Linked DNA regions of Homo sapiens: region 1 is linked to region 2. Evidence: fine-mapped expression QTL. A gene starts in region 2. The other region holds a variant in brackets. All regions are shown on one strand. Distances are between the middles of the regions.

Region 1 (2,500 bases), 22 kb after region 2:
TCGCACCACTGCACTCCAGCCTGGGCGACAGAGCGAGACTCCATCTCAAAAAAAAAAAAAAAAGAAAAGAAAGAAGTTGGAATTCCTTCAATATTTCCTAAGCTTGCCAAGGTCTTTTCTGACATATTTGACCTTTTTTGTTAGGCCTGGAGAACGTTGCAGGCTTTGGGGCCTGAAAGGAAGGTTTCCCAAGTCTTCTAGACTCCTCTCAGTTCGAACCCCAGAGGTAAAAGGATGACTTTTCTTTTCTTTCTTTCTTTTTTTTTTTTTTTTTTTTTTGAGACAGAGTCTCACTCTGTCACCCAGGGTGGAGTGCAGTGGCACAATCTTGGCTCACTGCTACCTCCACCTTCTGGGTTCAAGCAATTCTCCTGCCTCAGCCTCCTGAGTAGCTGGGATTACAGGTGTGGGTATCCGCCACCCCACCAGGCTAGTTTTTTGTATTTTTAGTAGAGACAGGGTTTCGCCATGTTGGCCAGGCTGGTCTTGAGCTCCTGACCTCAGTTGACCCTCCCATCTCAGCCTCCCAAAGTGCTGGGATTACAGGCGTGAGCCACCGTGCCCTGCCAGAGGATGGCTTTTCTCATCCCCCTCCCTGTGTTGGGGAGAGCCTCTTGTCCCTCACATGTGACAGCCCCTCTGTGTCTGCGGGAGGCTGCGCTAGCTCCGGCTTATGTGGGCTGGGAAGCCGTCTCCCTGGTGCTTCCTCTCCCAGCTGAGGACAGATTCCTGCCTATTCCCTGACCTTTACTTATCCTCCCATCTGCCTAGTCAGTTTGTCTCCTGTTCCTGGGCGCTGCTGTCTCCTTACACCCAGGCTTTTCAGTTCCTCCCTTACTCGCTTCACTCTCCTTCCTTTCTGCTCACTCTTTGTTCATGTCCCAAATGATTGGCGTGTCATATGCACCACATTGATCACTTCAGCCTGTTCTGCGAATTCTGTTGGAACACGCTATGTGTGCTGGGCAGTGAGCGGTGGGCAGAAGACATTTATCCAGACTCTTGGCACTGAAGGCACCTTAGTGGTCATGTTTTTCTTTTTTAAGAGATAGATCTCACTGTGTTGCCCAGGCTGGACTTGACCTGCTGGGCTCAAGCAGTCCTCCTGCCTCAGCCTCTGGAGTAGCTAGGATTACAGGTTCAAGCCACTGTACCTGCCCTTAGTGGTCATTTAACTGGGCCACCCCTTCTAAGGCTGACTTGACCAGAGAAGTGCTTCTCAGAGGGTTTCCTTGAAAAACCGCATTGCCAAGGTACGTCTTCTCAACAGAAAATCCCCAAATGCAGAGGACTGTGTGGTCAGATGAGTCTGTGTGCTCTGTTTCCCTCTTGTAAGTTTTGGACACATACGGAAGGCTCTGGAAAGTTCCACACTGAACCTGTT[A/T]ACTTTGACTGGGACTCCGTGTAACAGAGACTGTCCCTCCCAGCCGGTTTGTGCAAGCTCTCTTTACTTCTCAGGTCTAGTTCCAGTTGGCCGTTTTGCCAGAAGGCACTTCCTTGCACTTAGCTAAAGTCTGTCTCACCCATTTCCATGCACAGAGCCCAGTTCTGGCAGCCTTTGGGCCCCTGGGCAACATCTGAAGGCAGCTCTTTGCCAGATCCCACTTGTTCCTTCCACCCCTGTCCTGTCCTTGTGTGGGGTCTTTTTTTTTTTTTTTTTTTTTTGAGTCGGAATCTTGCTCTGTCACCCAGGCTGGAGTGCAGTGGCACGACCTCGGCTTACTGCAAGCTCCGCCTCCTGGGTTCACGCCATTCTCCTGCCTCAGCTTCCCGAGTAGCTGGGACTACAGGCGCCTGCCACCATGCCCGGCTCTTTTTTTGTATTTTTAGTAGAGATGGGGTTTCACTGTGTTAGCCAGGATGGTCTTGATCTCCTGACCGCGTGATCCACCCACCTCGGCCTCCCAAAGTGCTGGGATTACAGGCGTGAGCCACCGTGCCCGGCCTGTGTGGGGTCTTAAGTCCATTCGTCTTCTTGGCTGCTTCCCACTGACCAGGCCCATGGCCTCCCTGAAGTGTGAGGTCTGTGTGGAGTGGGGCAGACCATGATGAGGTGGGTAGGACTGTGGCCCTTGCATTCAGGATTCAGGACTTTTTGTACTTGCCACTATGATTTATTTCGCCCATGAGTTTTCTGGCAGCCTCCCTGACTCACTGTAGGGTCCCAGTCCCCTGAAGGTGTGGTCACAGTTGCAAGTGAGCGCCATTTCTCTCAAAACCTGTGCTGGGAAAGTCAGTCTGTGGGGGTCTTAGTTTTAGGACCTTGCTTTTTTTTTTTTTTTTTAATTGTTTTGGGACAGAGTCTCACTCTGTCACCCAGGCTGGAGTGCAGTTGTATGAGCACAGCTCATTGCAGCCTCGACCTCCCAGGCTTGAAATGATCCCCCTGCCTCAGCCTTCTGAGGAGCTGGAACCACAGGCACATGCCACTATGCCTTGCTAATTTTTTTATATTTTTGAAGAGACAGGGTCTCACTATGTTGCCCAGGCTTGTCTTGAA
Region 2 (2,500 bases):
AGCCAACCTTCTAGTCACCACCACCAGGTCAGGAAGTGTAGCGCCCCGTGATCTATTTGCAGGGTTGCCATTGTATATGTAAAACCCGTATTCTCTGTACCAAGTCAAGTTGTTCAGTAGGAATGTTAAAGATTTTTATACTTTTCTTTAAAAAACGTATTTTCCTTTATAACTTTTTAAAAATAACATTTTAACCCAGGTCCCCCGCATGCCCTGCACTCGCATGCCAAAGGCTGGTCCCTGGGTCTCAGACAACCATAGTCCAGCGGGGTCACTGACCTGCCCCAGTCATCAGCCCATGGTGGGTCAGAGCAGCGTCGTTCTCAAGTGGGGACAGACCCGTGTTTACAAGATTCTCAACGCCTGGCTGATGTAACAGCGGCATCAGCCTTCCTTGGGGAGAATGACGACTGTATTTGTTTTTACCCTCTTGTTAAAAATGCTGATTTAATTTTCAAGCTTCTTTTCCTTCTTTCCTTTCTTTTTTCCTCCCCCTCTCCCTCCTTCTTCTTCGTTTATTTTTAGAGCCAGGGTCTCACTCTGTCGCCCAGGCTGGAGTGCAGTGGCCTGACCATGGCTCGTTGCAGCCTCGACCTCCCGGGCTCAAGCCATCCTCCTACTTCAGCCTCCTGAGTAGCTGGGACTACAGACGAGCGCCACTATGCCTGGCTGATTTTTTAAAAGTTTTTGTAGAGACAGTCTAACTATGTTGCCCAGTCTGGTCTCGAACTCCTGGGCTCAAAAGATCCTGCCACCAACACCTAAGTGTTGGGATTGCGGATGTGAGTCTCCGCGCCAGGTTTCTTCTCTTTTCTTGTGCGTTTCACGCAAAAAAACCCGAGTCCCTGAAGCTACGCTGCTTTCCTGCCTCTAGGGAAAACGGGAGTTTTTTCTGCTCGTTTGCTCTCTCTCTTTTTTGTTTGCTTATTTGTTTTTAGTATTTTTAGCATGTTTTGGAAACATTTCGTTCCAATGAGTGTTTGAAAAGCAGCTCCCCCGCCCCACGCTCCGGGCGGGCGCCTCCCACTCCCTGACCCCGGGGAGGGTGGGCACCACTCCCAGACGCGGGGGACGCGTGGGTGTCGCTCGGGGGCGCTCGCCTCCCCCACCCAGCCTGTCCCGGGCCGCGAGCGCTTCCAGTCGGGTTACTTCTGGGGGACAAGAAAGGCACCGTCTGAACGGTCGAGACGCTTTTTCCCGCTACGGTTTTCCCCGGAGCTGACAGGGGCAGCAAGGTCGGAGTTGATCCGAGGGTCCCTGCCTGGTCCCGGGGGGACGGTCAGCCTCCCGCCCGGAGCCGCGGGGAGAGGAAGCAGGTCGGGGTCTCCGGGACGCGCAGACACCCAGACACCGGCGGCCTCCTCCCACCAGGCTGGCAGTCGCTGAGCCCTGGCGCCTCCTTAAAGCCGCAGCTCCGCCCCGACCGCCCCGCCCGCCAGTCCGTCCTCAGACCCTCCCAACCGCCGGGTCCCCGCCGCCTCGGCGGAGTGTTGTAGAGCCTCGAGCCTGCGAGGAGCGCGCCGCCCGCCAGCTCCCTGCGTCCCGTCCCGCGTCCCCGCGTTCCCGCGTCCTGCGATCCGCCGCCATGGCCAGTGAGGAGCTGGCGTGCAAGCTGGAGCGCCGGCTGCGGCGCGAGGAGGCCGAGGAGAGTGGCCCCCAGCTGGCTCCCCTCGGCGCCCCAGCCCCGGAGCCCAAGCCCGAGCCCGAGCCTCCCGCCCGTGCGCCCACGGCCAGCGCCGACGCGGAGCTGAGCGCCCAGCTGAGCCGGCGGCTGGACATCAACGAGGGCGCTGCGCGGCCCCGGCGCTGCAGGGTCTTCAACCCCTACACGGAGTTCCCGGAGTTCAGCCGCCGCCTCATCAAGGACCTGGAGAGCATGTTCAAACTGTGAGCTCCCGCTGCGCGCCCTTCGCCCCCGGGACCAGGGAGGGAGCGGGAGGGCTTTCTGGTCCGAAGTCCCGGGCCCTGTTTGTGTGGGGAGGGGTCCCGGGGTGCAGGTAGCATTTGGCCCAACGCAGCCAGATCTTGCGTGCTCGGGTCTATCTCGGCGCGGTGGGGGACGGGGCCGAAGAGGGGGGACACCAGGAGCAGGAGCTCTCCGGGACGGAGCCCAAAAGTTCTCGGCGGCTGCCGGGCCCGAGTTCCAGGTCCCCCAACCCCGACCACTGGTCCCGCCCCCTCCGCCCGCCAGTCCGGAGATTTGCTCCGAAAGCAACTTCTAGGAAAGGGAGCCGTCGCCGCGCCTCACCTGCCAGCTTTCACTGTATCCCCCCAAGGGAAAAATTAGCCCCTGTTGGCCTTTTATCTTTTAAAACAAAAGGGGAAAGTTAATCCTTGGCTGCAGCGCGGGGTCTGATGAATGAGCGGAGGCCGAGAACGGGGAGTTTGGTAAAGTCGTTGTAAGAGATTCAGGACTTTCCTGGAGCAGGCGCGGCCCGGGAGCCTCCTGGGGGCGCGGGGAGGGGGGGCGGTTGTGGGAACCGAACTTGGCCGCTGGCAC

Alleles and levels. Alleles are on the strand shown, and positions count from the first base shown. SD is a standard deviation of normalised expression in the study named.
As copies of A replace T in region 1, the expression in liver of the gene that starts at base 1,485 in region 2 goes down (moderate effect, 0.69 SD a copy in GTEx).

The links.
Region 1: its variant is fine-mapped to the expression of EFHD1 in liver (GTEx, PIP above 0.99). The same link has a PIP of 0.9 or more in aorta and testis.

What each region holds. Positions count from the first base shown.
Region 1 is chr2:232,654,160-232,656,659 of GRCh38, forward strand. All of the region lies in intron 1 of EFHD1 (EF-hand domain family member D1), which reads left to right. Among named protein-coding and RNA genes, the nearest start is that of EFHD1, 22 kb to the left of the region's middle. The variant A/T (reference allele first, on the strand shown) is at 1,385.
Region 2 is chr2:232,632,120-232,634,619 of GRCh38, forward strand. It overlaps EFHD1 (EF-hand domain family member D1), which reads left to right and starts at 1,485. Exons shown (of 4, transcript NM_025202.4): 1 at 1,485-1,887. The coding sequence starts at 1,586. RefSeq lists silencers at 1,523-1,582, 1,660-1,954.